Homo sapiens: one gene and its partners. The protein of the gene in region 3 purifies or fractionates together with the protein of the main gene of each other region. This does not show direct contact. Each region holds a gene or a part of one and is shown on either strand. Other genes may lie near its edges.

What was found.
Region 1: the proteins of ZNF514 (region 3) and SAFB2 purify together in Homo sapiens (affinity purification with mass spectrometry; one large-scale study listed by BioGRID and IntAct). This does not show direct contact.
Region 2: the proteins of ZNF514 (region 3) and SMARCAD1 purify together in Homo sapiens (affinity purification with mass spectrometry; one large-scale study listed by BioGRID and IntAct). This does not show direct contact.
Region 4: the proteins of ZNF514 (region 3) and TRA2A purify together in Homo sapiens (affinity purification with mass spectrometry; one large-scale study listed by BioGRID and IntAct). This does not show direct contact.

Annotation. Positions count from the first base shown.
Region 1 is NC_000019.10:5,605,694-5,609,673, forward strand, and holds part of SAFB2 (scaffold attachment factor B2), read right to left. Parts: intron 1-3,980. UniProt on the Homo sapiens protein: Binds to scaffold/matrix attachment region (S/MAR) DNA. Can function as an estrogen receptor corepressor and can also inhibit cell proliferation.
Region 2 is NC_000004.12:94,245,468-94,249,447, reverse strand, and holds part of SMARCAD1 (SWI/SNF-related matrix-associated actin-dependent regulator of chromatin subfamily A containing DEAD/H box 1), read right to left. Parts: exon of another isoform or gene 895-3,980; intron 1-894. UniProt on the Homo sapiens protein: DNA helicase that possesses intrinsic ATP-dependent nucleosome-remodeling activity and is both required for DNA repair and heterochromatin organization.
Region 3 is NC_000002.12:95,146,899-95,150,052, forward strand, and holds part of ZNF514 (zinc finger protein 514), read right to left. Parts: coding exon 2,384-3,154; 3' UTR 1-2,383. UniProt on the Homo sapiens protein: May be involved in transcriptional regulation.
Region 4 is NC_000007.14:23,525,399-23,529,378, forward strand, and holds part of TRA2A (transformer-2 protein homolog alpha), read right to left. Parts: intron 1-3,980. UniProt on the Homo sapiens protein: Sequence-specific RNA-binding protein which participates in the control of pre-mRNA splicing.

The DNA.
Region 1 (3,980 bases), on a different chromosome or scaffold from region 3:
GCATTGTCTTCCTGCCTGAAACAACTAACAAATGTGATGAAACGTAGGCAACGACAGTTTTCAGATCCTGGACATCAGGCTGCCCAAGACAACAATCCCTGAGAGCTCCCTGACTGCCCCTGCTCACTGCCTAGATTCCCAGGCAATGGGGGATGGGTAAGACAGCACTGAGATTCTGAGACCAAGACAGAGAGAAATCACGGAACTGAGTATCAGAGAGGACACAGCCACACAGAGCCACGCAGAGCAAGCTGAAGAGACCCACAGAGGGTTCCTCCCACCCAGTGCACACGTGTGCGAGGAAACCAGAGGCTGGGACAGCACCACCCATAAGGAGCAGAGGGAACAATCAGGAGCAGAGGGAACAACCACTGGAGGGGCACTCAGGGCCACAAATGGTTTGCTCTTCCCAATAGCCAGGGTGGAAAGGCTGGTAATTCACGGGCCATCAGACCCACTACTCAGAGGGCACTGCCCAGTGGTGAGACAAAATCAGCCCAAACTGAAGGCTACTTTGGCCCTGCCTTAGTGTGTGTCCAGTACCTCAGCTGTGTCCCAGAAAAAAGCTCAAGGGTATTTGTAGAGATACAAGTATAACTAGCACCCAAAAAATACAATTCACAACATCCAGTAAAAAATTACCAGGCACAGGCTGGGCACAGTGGCTCATGCCTGTAATCCCAGCACTTTGTGAGGCCAAGGCAGGTAGATCACTTGAGGCCAGGTGTTCAAAACCAGCCTGGGCAACACAGAGAAACCACATCTGTACCAAAAATTTTAAAAATTAGCTGGGTGTAGTGGTACATGCCTGTGGTCTCAGCTACTCAGGAGGCTGAGGTGAGAGGATCGCTTGAGCCCGGGAGCTCGAGGCTGCAGTGAGCACCACTGTACTCCAGCCTGGGTGACACAGTGAGATCCTGTCTCTAAGGGAAAACAAAACAAAACAAAAAAACCAGAAGAAACTTAAAAGCAGCCACAGAAAAAGAGAGAGAAAAGACACAAATTGGTAACTGAAGGAACAAAGATTAAATTAACCTAGAATTCTATACCCAGTGAAAATTTATTTCAAAATGAAGACAAAGTAAAGACTTTTTCTGACATGCAAAAGAAACAAGAACGTATCACCAGCAAACCTGCACTACAGGAAACATTCAATTCCTTCAGGAGGGAGGAAGATGATCTCCGATGGGAACTTGGATATACAACAAAAAGCAACGAAGAGCACCTGGTGAGGTGAACATGATTTTTTCCTGTCATTTCTGGGTCTCTTTAAAATATAACTGTTTGGCTGGGCGTGGTGGCTCACGCCTGTAATCTCAGCACTTTGGGAGGCCGAGGTGGGAGGATCACGAGGTCAGGAGATCAAGACCATCCTGACTAACACAGTGAAACCCCATCTCTACTTAAAATACAAAAAATTAGCCAGGCCTGGTGGCGGGCACCTGTAGTTCCAGCTACTTGGGAGGCTGAGGCAGGAGAATGGCATGAACCCAGGAGGCAGAGCTTGCAGTGAGCCGAGATCGCGCCACTGCACTCCAGCCTAGGCGACAGAGCGAGACTCCGTCTCAAAAACAAACAAAAACAAAAACAAAAACAAAAAAAAACACAACTGTTCAAAGCAAAAAAGCCAAACCACAACAAGTCAAAGCCAATAAAATATTGGGTGACTTCTTAAAGAGAAGTAAACCGTATGACAATAACATCACAAAGATCGACGGGAGGGGAAATGCAAGTATATTCCCACAGAGTTCTTGCACTACGCTGAAACCAACAGAGCACCCCTTGCAGACAGACTGTAAGGGAAGATGTGTACTGTAATCCTACAGTAAACCACAATGACACAGAGTTAGAGCAAATAAGCCATCAGTCATAAAAAGGACTCGACCCACAAGAAGGCAGATAAATGGGAAAAAGAGATCAATAAACAAACATGAACAGAAAATAGAGAACAAGACAGTAGATCTAACGCCAAGCCCACCACCACTGGCGCGCAGAGTAAACATTTCCCCGGGACACAGGAGTCCTGGTCTCTGCCCTATCTCTGACTCAGGGCATCAACCTAAGCAAGGCATTCCCCGTCTCTGGACCTCATGGCCCCAACTGTGAAATGACAAGGTGGAACCCACAAGCTTGAGGTTCCCATCTGACGTCCTTGGTTTTGACCACACAAATGGAGGAGTCAAGGCTCTGCCTGAATCTGTCCAGGGCCAAAGGGACAGAAGACTCTCCTGAGAGAAACACAGATGCCACTTCCCATTCTACCTTCCCATCAAATTAATCATCCTTACAAGTATATCTCTTCTGATGACAGACAAAACCCAAATGAGAGCAGGCACCATACTAAGCTTGTATGTCCCTATCCCTGAGCTATGCCATCCGCCCTGGAGGCTCTGCATACTTCAGTCAAGTAGCTGAGTGGTGTCCTGCCCCTCTGGCCTTCCTACGTCCTTCTGTTTTTGTCCAGAGCTGAGCCCCACAGGTAAGGCCAACTCTGTCACTCACGCCTCAGCTGAATGTCACTTCTTCAGCGAGCTCTGCTGAAGCTGCCTCCCAAATCTAAACACGGCCTCCCCAACACACTGACGGCGTGCTCTAATATTCCTTAATACGCTCATCACAACACATCATATGTGTTTATTTCTTAAATGGTCTTTTTCCCGCCAGACTAAAAAATCTGTGATGACAGTGACCACGTATGTTTACCTCTGCTTAATCATCAGTGTCCGAGTGAAGTCAACAAAGTAACTGAATAAACAGGTTATTCATGGCTATAAGAATTTCCTAAGCCCTTGCTGAACACACAGACTGTTCAGAGAAAAATTGAACAGCACGCTTTCTCCGGGTCCTGTCCGCTTCTTAAGCAATGAAACATTAACCAACACCTGATCGGGTGACACAGACCTAGACAAAGGAACGGCTTCTGTAGCCAGAAAACTGTGTCAGACAGGGCCCACTCTGCCTGGAATCAGGGCACCCTCCAGACACTAAATGGTCCGAACCTTGTCCCTTGGAAGCCACTCCCCAGAGGCACCCAGGAGACCAGGGCAGTGCCAATTGCTTACCAGAAGACTCTTGGCTAGGCGCGGTGGCTCACGCCTGTAATCCCAGCATTTTGGGAGGCCAAGCAGGCAGATCACATAGGTCAGGAGTTGGAGACCAGTCTGGCCAACATGGCGAAACCCCATCTCTACTGAAAATACAAAAATTAGCCAGGCATGGTGGTGGGTGCCTGTAATCCCAGCTACTCGAGAAGCTAAGGCACGAGAATCACTTGAACCTGGGAGGGAGGCGGAGGCTGCAGTGAGCCAAGATCACACCACTGCACTTCAGCCTGGGCAACAGAGCGAGACGCAGTCTCAAAAAAAAAAAAAAAAAAAAAAAGAACAACAAACAAACAAAAAAAGAAGACTCTTAATTAATTTCAAACAGTGGAATCATTTTAAATTGTCCTCACCTTCCTTTGGAAAGCTGCTGAATTGTACTATTTTTCTCCCACCCCCATGAGCAGCATCTTAGTGATTTATTTTTGAACCACGATCATGTTCTAGTTATGAGACTATATACTTAAAATGCTAAATGATATGAAAGTCAATTATTCACTTCATTCTTTTTTTTTTTTTTTTTTTTTATGACATAGTCTCGCTCTGTTACCCAGGCTGGAGTGCAGTGGCACAATCTTGGCTCACTGCAACCTCTGCCTCCTGGGTTCAAGTGATTCTCCCACCTCAGCTTCCCGAGTAGCTGCGACTACAGGCACAGAACACCACGGCTGGCTGATTTTTGTATTTTTAGCAGAGACAGGGTTTCGCCATGTTGGCCAGGCTGGTCTCCAACTCCTGACTTTAGGTGATACGCCCGCCTCGGCCTCCCAAATTATTCTTAAGGGAAAAATCTCATCATGTAAGCTTTAAGTTTTGCACAAGACAAAAGACCACCAGTCTCTTTGAGACCAGTTAGAAAGAACCCCAAGAACATTGAGA
Region 2 (3,980 bases), on a different chromosome or scaffold from region 3:
CCTGATTGCATATCCGGTAACTCAAACTTTATTCTCAGTGCTTAAAATGAGATAAATCTCCTAAAAAACTAGAATGATCCTCAAATTAACTCAATATAATTCAAGTATACTGATGCCTTCTCCAAGACAACGGTAAATTTTAAAAGGATACAAATATCTCATCTATGTTCACTATTATATATCCACCTATAAATTTCAAATTCTGAGAAGAGTTTACTTTTACTTCACTCTTGATTCACAGAATGGCTTAAATATTAATTGTTCAGTCACAACATAAAACTGAAACAATGATAAAAGGAATTTAAGTGGAACTAAATAATGTATAAACCGAACAGATTAATTAATATGAGAATTGTGGCTATACATAGTCTCACTTTTCCTTCTTCTCTGTCACTTAACTTCACTTGAAGAAACTGGTTAAAGTCCACATTTAAGCAAAAAGAAAAGACTCCTTGTGTTCATGCATAGGAAAAATTTTAGTCAATCAAAAAGCATTTTTCTACTCTGCTTAGAACTGCACCACATGCTATACACACAAGATGGAGAAAAATACAATCTTCTTCTTCAACCTCCTTTATTATCCAACAACTGAATTGCTATTTTTCTCTTTCAGTACCTTAGATAGAAATAACTAAATTCTGATACCTCCTCTGCACAATGGAGTAAAATAAAATTTCATAAAACAGAGACCAATAAAATGCTATGGATATCTGGACTAAAGAAGAAAATTGCATGTGTTTCATAATACTAAGTGGTCTACTTGGGCTCAAATGCAGAGAATGTTAATAGGTTACAAGGATGAAGAATTAAACCAGAGCTAACATGGAATAAAGCCTAAGGTTAGTCTTTTTTAAGAAGCAACAGGATTTTGAGCAGGGGAATAATAAGACATACTGGTGAAACCCATCTGGAGAAACCATTTCAAAATCTTCAAAATTCATACTGCCACCTTTACAGCCCAGGCACACTGAAATTCCAAGAACAGTATTTTAAAGCTCACAGATGGACAACAACCAGCTGAGGAGGGAACAGATCCAAGTATCTAACTCTAGACCACTGCTTTTTCACTACATAAGTGAAAACTAAACTTCAGTTGTTCATTTGTTAATATATCAAATGTGCGTCATGGACAAATTGTGGTAAACACATAAAATGGAATATCACTAAGTCATAAAAAAGAATGAAGTACTGATACACACCACAACATGAATGAACATTGTAGTATATCTGAAAGCATTATGCTATGTAAGAGGCTAATAAAAAAGAACAAAATCATGTTCTTCGCAGCAACACAGATGTAGCTGGAAACCATTTCCTAAGCAAGCTAATGTGGAATCAGAAAAATCAAATACCACATTTCCCACTTATAAATGGGAGCTAAACATTGGGTACACGTGTTCATAAAAATGAGAACAACAGACACTGGGGAACACAAGAAGGCGGAGGGAGGATGTGGGGGAAGAGTTAAGGAAAACTACCTATGGAGTACTATCCTTACTATCTGGGTGACAGATTCATTCATACTTCAAACTTCAGCATCACGCAATATACGTTTGTAACAAACTTGCACATGTACCCCAATTCTAACATAAAGTTGAAAAAAGAAAAAACAAATAAAACACATTTTTCTGAAATTAAAAAATAAGAGGCTAGACATAAAAGGTTACATATTATATAATTCCACCTAAATGAAATGTTCAGAATAGGTAAATCCAGAGACTGAAGGCAGATTGGCGGTTGCCAGGGGTTAGGGGGAGGAGGGAATGGGGAGAAACTGCTTAATGGGTATAGCATGCTATTACGAGGTGATGACAGCGTTTGGAACTAGACAGGAATGATGGTATACAACACTGTGAATGTACTAAATAGCATTAAATAGTTCACTCTAAAATGGTTAATTTTATGCTATGTGAATTTCACCTCAATAAAAAAATACATAAAATATCTGGAAAACAGTAAACAGCTCTTCGGAATCAAATATTTAGTAGATGGTGTGCCTATCATGTGTTGTTTGCTCTTGGGTCCCACACTTATGCCAGCTCTGCTTATCCCTGGTGACTGAATATACTCATGTGGTCCAGGAGGTTACACAGACACTTTACAAAAGCTAGCTGATAAAATTTGGGACTGTATCTGTCTCAGCGGGCCCAAGGGATATGATTCGACCCAGTGCTTATTTTTCCATCTCCAGAATCATAGTTGGAACAGACATATTTGGCACTGGCAGAAATCCCATACTATATCAGTTCCCTGACCCATGATGTATGGGCTACTATTATAGGAAACACCAAATCCAAGTCCCTAGAATTGTCCCTCTCAATCAAAACAATAAGCAATTACTACAGTCCTAAAGGAACTGCAGATATTGACACCACCATCCCATCCCAATGTAAGATGCCTCCTTGACCTATACAAAAAGTAGATGAGTCTTGCAAGTATTTAAGAGTATCATAAACAATCAAACTCCAGCTGCAGCTGCTTTACAGGATGTGGTATTTTTGCTGGAGCAAATCAATATGGCTATGCAGTTATCAATCAAGTACTTGCTTTTTCCCCTTTCCCAATTAGATCAAACAGAAACAATCCGTTTTTATCTTGGCAGGTTTAATGATATACCTTCAGTCTTCAGAGTTAGAGTAACTTTCCTGGCTCTCTCAAATAATACAGTACTCATGGACTTAGATGGTTTTGCACAGTCTAGAGAGTATCACTTGATCCACTATACTGACATCATGTTGACTGGACTTGATACAGGTAGTGGGTATTTTCAATGGTACTGGTCAGATACGTACATGCCACATATCAGGGTGAAGGAATAACCATCCTCACTCTGAGGCCCACCACTTTCGTGGGAGTGTAGTCTGGAGCATGTTGCAAACTCCACTCTTAAGAAAAAAGAAAGGCCGCACCTATCTGCCTCTTTAGACTGGACATTGGGAGCTCACTGCACACTGGAGGCAAGATATACTTCATTAGGGTGTGTACTGCTTGATTCATTTTATAAAATACCTCTTAAGATTGTCAGTTATGGCTGGGCACGCTGGCTCACGCTTGTAATCCCAGCACTCTGGGAGGCTGAGGCGGGTGGATCACGAGGTCAGGAGTTTGAGACCAGCCTGGCCAACACAGTGAAACACCGTTTCTACTAAAAATACAAAAAATTAGCCAGGCGTGGTGGCAGGCACCTGTAATCCCAGCTACTCGGGAGGCTGAGGTGGGAGAATTGCTTGAACCCGGGAGGCGGAGGTTGCGGTGAGCCAGGATCATGCCATTGCACTCCAGCCCAGACAACAGTGCGAGACTCCATCTCAAAAGAAAAAAAAAAAAAAAAGAATGTCAGTTATGAATGGGGCCCAGGTTAAGAGACGGCTCTGTACCAGGTCCAGAGTGCAATACAAGGTACTCCGCCACTTGGGTTTCGTGACCAGCAGATGCAATGATTCTCCAAGAATCTGTTGCAGGTAAGGATGTTGTATGAAGTCTTTGGCAAGCCCCAGTGGGAAAATCGTTTTAGAGAGTTTTAAAGAAAGGTCATCATGTCCTCTTCTACTGACCACAGTCAGTTTTGCTGTGACACATATATTTCCAAAAATTACTGCATTATGCAAAATTGTTAAAAATTGCAGCCTTTAGGAGAAAAACTGTTAGAGATACAATGTCAAAAACTTCATCAGTGACATATAAAAAGAGAAGGCAATCTAATAAAAATGATACAATTTTACACACATTAAATAGTTAATACCTAAATACTACAATAAATATGAGCTGAAGTTTGCTTGTGGACATTGGAAGAGTTACAGCTTACGAGTTATTGTAAAGTGGCAAAAAACAGGTTATCTGAAAATGAATGGAAATTTTTAACACCAGATACAGAAGGTTGTAGCTCACTGTCCTTGTGTTATGTCTGCTGTACTAACTTAAAATATAAAGAATAAATAAAATTTCTGTGGTGTTGCCAGCCTCCTCCTTTTACACTAAAG
Region 3 (3,154 bases):
CTTGACCTCAGCTGTCCAAGTACTTCCAGATCCAGATGCCTCCTGTGCATCCTACCTGCCCTGGCCAACCTTGTGGACTCTTAGACCCAGCCTGTCTGCATGGGCCCACTTTGAGCTGGTTCCCTGAATTCTGGGCTCAACTTCCTCATCTGGACTTTAAATGCTTAAAGTATTTTCCTCAGTATAAGCTAATCCTTATTAGGCAAGTATCCTTTGGTCTACGCCAGCTCCTGGTCTAGGCTTCTCCACCTGAGTTACAGAGCCAACATGGTAGGAACTTTAAAGCAGAGCCTGACAAGGTTCTGAGACCCAGTAAATGTAGGGGTAACTGTTACAGAAAATAAAAAGTGATACCAAAAATGCATAGATGGCTTGAAGTAACAAACAAAACAGGAATACTTGTTTAGCAATGGTTGGTATATGTGTAAATTTGATTTTGAAAAATGATTTTATTGAGGTATATTTACCATAAAATCTGCCCATATAAAGTGAACAATTCAATGATTTTTAGTGAAGTTACCAAATCGTTCAACCATCACCACCATCTAGTTTTAGAACATTTTCGTCACCCTAAAAAGATTCCTTGTAACATTTGCAGTTACTTTGTTTCTGAAGATCTGCCATTTCTGGACATTTCCTAAAATGGTACTAGAAAATACCTGGTCTCTGGCATCTGCCTTCTTTCACTTAGAATCACGTTTTTGAGATCTGGATTGTGCATAATACCCATATTTTAGTTGTTTTTTTTTTTTTTTTCTGAGACGGAGTCTCACTCTGTCTCCCAGGCTGGAGTGCAGTGGCGTGATCTCGGCTGACTGCAAGCTCTGCCTCCCCGATTCACGCCATTCTCCTGTCTCAGCCTTCCAAGTAGCTGGGACTACAGGCGCCCGCCACCATGCCTGGCTAATTTTTTTGTATTTTTAGGAGAGACAGGGTTTCACTGTGTTAGCCAGGATGGTCTCGAACTCCTGACCTCGTGATCTGTCCGCCTCGGCCTCCCAAAGTGCTGAGGTTACAGGCGTGAGCCACCGCGCCCAGCCTATTTTAGTAATTTTAATGTTTAAACAAGGTTTCATTTCATTTCAAAAATTCCAAATCTATTAGCATAAAGATGTAACAAAAATTGCTTTTTGCTCAATCCTAGACCACTCCATTGCCTCACAAAGAAAGGTAACATGTGCTACAGAGAAAGAAGTGCATAGAGGTGTTGTACTGCAAAGATCCAGTCTATTAATCTCCATACTACAGCTGTGAACCACAGGAAAGAGGCCCAGCCCAGTTAGGACTATAGGCCAAGGCATGTCACTTTCTGAACATCAGTTTTATTAGCTCTAAAATACGACTGGGCTAGATCATGGGTAGCTGTCTACCTTTCTCAGCCTCCATCCTCTGCACCCATGCATGACACCCTGCCCCGTCAGTAACAGCATGAGGAGGCAATGCACAAGTGTCGTTATACAAATGGCCCCACCAGGCAGAAAATCACCAGACAAGGTGATTTCTCAGCTTCTTTTCAGCTCTAGTTTTATACATCTCAAGTTGGAAAGGAACTTTCCTCACATTCATCATGTTCCCAAGGTTTCTCTTTGAGATGAATACTGAAGCTTGAACTCTACTAATGGGTTTTCCCAGTTTCACTAAATTTGAAGAGTTGCTCTAGCACAAATTCTCTAATGTACAAATTCTCTAACGTGTTTTGGTGGAACATCCACCAAAGCCCTTCCCACATTCATCACGTCACCAGAGTTTCCAGCTAGTAGGGAGAGTTCTAAGGGGTTTATAAAGCAATGAGGTTTGGCTGAAGGCTCTCCCACATTACCCACATTCACAGGTTTTTCTCAGGTATGAATTTTCTGATGCTTAATAAGGGATGAGCCCTGACTGAAGGCCTTCCTCTATTTCCTGCTTTCATAGGGCCTCTCTCTAGTATGTGTTCTTGATGCTTAGTAAAGGAAGAGATACAACTGAAGATTTTTCCATACTTACCACACTTGTAGGATTTCTCTCCAGTACAAGTTATCTGATTTTCTTAAAGAATCAGTATGTAACTGAAGGCTTGCCACACTCACTGCATTGATAAGGCTCCTCCCCAGTGTCGGCTGTCTGATGCTGAATAATATGCATCCTCTGATCAAAGCGTTCCCACATTCATTACATTCACGTGGTTTCTCACTAGTATGGATTCTCCCATGTTTGGTAAGAGAGGGGAAGCCCACCCCCTCTTGACATTGACAGGGATTCTCTTTAGTAATTATTGCCTGATGTGGAACAAGATGTGGTCTTCCCACATACATTACACCTTTAGGATCTCTCTCTGATATGAATTCTTTAAGTTCCAGTGATGTCTGCACTCCAGCTGAAAGCCCTTCTATATTCACTGAATTTATAGGGTTTTTTTTCCAGCATGACTTCTCTGATGTTTAATAAGGGATGCAGTATGAGCAAAGGCCCTTCCACACTCATTACATTTGTAGGGTTTCTCTCCAGTGTGAAATCTGTAATGTTGAGTGAGAGATGAACTCTGGCTGAAGGCTCTCCCACATTTATTACATTTGTAAGGTTTCTCTCCAGTATGAAATCTGTAATGCACAATGAGTGATGAGCTCTGGCTGAAGGTTCTCCCACATTCCCGGCATTCATAGGGCTTTTCTCCAGTATGAGTCCTCTGATGCTTAATAAGGGATGAAGTGTGACCAAAGGCTCGTCCACATTCATTACATTTGTAGGGTTTCTCTCCAGTGTGAAATCTATAGTGCAGAACAAGAGACGAACTCTGGCTGAAGGCTCTCCCACATTCACTGCATTCATAGGGCTTTTCTCCAGTATGAGTTCTTTGATGTTTAATAAGGGATGAAATATGACCAAAGGCTCTTCCACAGTCACTGCATTCATACGGCTTTTCTCCAGTGTGACATCGCTGATGGCGCCTAAGTTCTGACTGGAAGTGAAAGGACTTCCCACACTCATTACATTTACAAGATTTCTTTTCTGGGTGGGTTCTCTGAGAGTTGTTTCCCCCTAAAGTCTGCCTGAATTCTGTATCACATTTATAAGATCCTTCTCCCATGAGAATGCTGTGTTGGTTAACAAGGACTGATCTTAAACCTAAGCTTCTCCCAAATCCATTCCATTTATAATCTCTGCTAAGGGTGGT
Region 4 (3,980 bases), on a different chromosome or scaffold from region 3:
ATTTCCTCAGTAATCTGGCTCCTGCATCCAATAACCATTAAAAATACACTGCCCGGTTTAAATGGGCAGATTAATAACTCAACTCGTATCATGAATTTTAACAAAAGTCTTAAATAGGCCTCCAGTCTATCTTATAGGCTATAAAGCAGAAGCCAGGCAGAAAAGTTCTTCTCACAGCACAACCTGCTTTAACAGGTTTTTGTTTTGATGTTTATTTGCTTGTTTGGTTTTTCTGTCACCCAGGCTGGAGTGCAGTGGCACAATCTTCTCATTGCAACCTCCAACTCCTGGGTTCAAGCAATTCTGCCTCAGCTTCCTGGGTAGCTGGGATTACAGGCACCCGCCATCGCACCTGGCTAACTTTTGTATTTTATTTTAGTAGAGACGGGGTTTCACCACATTGGCCAGGCTGGCCTCGAACTCCTGACCTCAAGTGATCCACCCGCCTCAGCCTCGCAAAGTGCTGGGATTACAGGCATGAGCCACTGCACCCGGCCTGCTTGTTTAAACTATTCTTTATTATCAAGATGACCCTGCTGTTGGTTGAAGGAAATGGCCAAAAATTAAAAGGAGGGAACTAACTAAAACACTAAGAAAGTGTTATAGTGTAACCAATACAAGCTGGTTAAGAATTGTCTTTCTGTGTTAAAATAGAGTTGTATTTTACACACTGTGAATAACCACAATAACCATGTACTATTCTTTTAATCAGGAAAAGGGTTATTATATACATGTACACAATGTTGCGGAACATGAACAATTCCTACAGCAAGCAATAACTGCAGTCTTTTAATATAGCCTGTGTCATACTATAAAAAGAAATTCCAACACAATATATATATGTGCTATCCATTAAAATAAATAAACTATTAAATGCTATACTGTAACTTACTCTAACATTAAGGCCAGGCAAATTCTATGCCATTTAATAGGGCCAAATTTACTCAAGTCCAAGTCTATGAGTATAAGCTTGTAAAACAGACTTACTAAAAATGTATTTTCCTGCTACTTTATGACACTGGCGCTCTATTTCCATAGATACACACTAGTGCATTGAGGAAAATCACAAGTACCCAAAAAGAAGGGAAATGTACCGAAATTATTCAAATACCTTACAATATTCATTTTACTACTTACTAAAGAACTTCTTTAGGAGTTGTAAAAAACCTGTATTTACTCAACCTCAGCCTATAGAAAGAACAACAGTTCTGCTTCCTTCCCCTTGAGTATGGGAGAATACTCTTACAGACCCCTATGAAGTTAAAGCAACACTTCCATTATCTTCTTAAACCGTAACTGCTATTAGAACAAATCCCTTAAAAAGAAGATAGCGACTGCTCATATTAAATTGAAATAATAATTTCCCTTCTTTTAAATGCAGCATGCCTATATGCTGCATTCTGAAGTCAATGTGGTCTTTATCTGCAAAGACTCAAACATATTCTAATTCTGTATGTTTCCTTATTCTCTAAAATTTAGAAGTCTTATCATAAATACATGATTTAGTAACTGACACCCACATATAATCAAATTTAAACTCATGCCATAATTGTGAAATCACCTGTAAAATTTATAATCTTTTGTACAAATTTTAAACGTGGTTCATAAGTCTCATAGCTTATATATCCTGATCAATTGTAATGTTCAAAAAACTAATGTATAAGTGGCAATTTCAAAGGTAGAAAAAACAAGTTTGTAAGGACTAATGTGATTTAACATTATGTTCTAATCTTCTGGAGTTATACAGTATTTATGAATCTTGGTAAGTCAGATGATAGGGTCCTGGTTTCAAGGAAAGATCACAACTTTTCTTCTACATATCAGTCAGGCCTAGTCACTCCATCTTTGGTGAAAGTCATGGGACAGTAAGGATTATATATAACTATATATATAAGTAACTTAAAAGGAGGGAAGGGAAACCATATTTCCCTTTAGTATTCTCCTCTCAACTTTTCTTCAGTGTATACAATCTTTCCCTCATCTAGTTGTTACTATTTTTTTCACCTCCATGCCTGTCTTGCTAAATTTGTGAGGACATATGAACAAATAGCAATCAGTTTTAATTCATTAGCACGTGAATACACATCTTTTAGTTATCTAATGGGTGAGCACCCACTGATACTATCAAAGAAAGTTTTCTGCCAGTCAAGTTCTAGGAAACTACTATGCTGATTATTGATGACATTTCACACTTCTTATAATACACATGCTACATCGTAGGTTAGAGTTTGGTTGATTTACAAAATTAAGCCCACAGACAAAGTGTTTTCCAAACCACACATCCCTAAATATTTAAATCCCTGGACATTCTTTCAGATCTCAAGGTTCTATATTCCATTTAATGAGTGGTACAAAGTATAAGCCTCTATGACAGATCTGTAAAATTAGTTATGCGCTGTGGGTATAATTACTTGCACTGCTCCTTTTCAAAATCTTGCCCTCTACTTATATTGAGCAGATCAACATCCTTCAGTGAAAGAACCTCAAATATAAAAATTTGAGATTTTAATTTTTTTTAAGTTTACAAATTCTTTGCTTAAATGGAAGGGGAGAGGAGAACAACTGAAAGCATTAAAATCAGATAAATGATAGTACTTAAATTTAGGAAAATAGATTAAACCCAAGACTCTCTTAGGTTAACACTATCCCTACTATAAGAAAGAAAGCTTTACCCTTATGTAAGGTCAATTTGATGATATATGGAATTAAATTGCTAAAGACGCTGAATAAGCAAAATGCTATGACATCTCTCACATTTATCTTAAAACTTCATACACAAAAAAATTTTAAGCCCAATTTAAAAGTTCTGTGTTTTTTTTTGTTTTGTTTTTGAGACGAGTCTCGCTCTATTGCCAGGCTGGAGTGCAGTGGCCGACCTCGGCTCACTGCAACCTCCGCCTCCCGGGTTCAAGTGATTCTCTGCCTCACCCTCCCGAGTAGCTGGGACTACAGACGCGCGCCACCACGCCCAGCTAATTTTTGTATTTTTAGTAGAGACTGTATTTCACCATATTGGCCAGGATGGTCTCCATCTCTTGACCTTGTGATCCGCCCGCCTCAGCCTCCCAAAGCGCTGGGATTACAGGCGTGAGCCACCGGGCCGGCCTTGTTTTGTTTTTAAACAAGCCAGTCACAGGCCTGGGTTTTGATAGTCATCATCCCTATCATTCTCAGATTTCAGAAAAGGACCCTCCCCCTATTTCTTCTATTTTTAACAAAAAATCTATACACACAAATCTTTTAATTCCAAATTGATACAGATAAATTTGTTTGCCTTTTTTTTTTTCGAGACAGAGTCTTGCTCTGTCGCCCAGGCTGGAGTGCAGTGATGCGATCTCGGCTCACTGCAACCTCTGCCTCCCGGGTTTAAGCAATTCTCCCACCTCAGCCTCCTAAGTAGCTAGGATTACAGGCATGTGCCACCCCGCAGGGCCTGTAGGAGTCTCTCAAAAATACTCCAGCTACTCAAGAAGCCAGAAGAAATCCTGAAAAGGAGGCAATAAGAAGCGGTATTTTTCCTCTTCAACTGTAGAAAACATAAATAACTCTGGAATTACAAGATAGGTCCCTAACAATAAAGAATCATTAACCTCCATGATCAACACTGGGATGCTGTATGAAAATTGCACATTTTTATAAAGTACAGTTCTTAAAATTTTAGGGGTAGAGGTGTAAAATGTTAAGAAAAGATTTCCATTCCCCTTAATTTCTATGAAGGGCATTAACATTTTTTGAGCTCAAAATCCGAATTTTAGTTGAAGCTGTATTGAGGCAAACAACTCATTACTTTTATCAAGACATGCAAAGCCACCGCTTAAGTGCTACCTTCACTCCCAGCTCCAAAGGACATCTCCACTTAAAATTGCTTTTATGGACCTACGTATTTACTTATTTTTGAGACAAGAGTCTCATTCTGTTGCCTAGACTGGAGTGTCGTGGCGCAATTCCGCCTCCCAGGTTCAAGTAATTCTCCTGCCTCA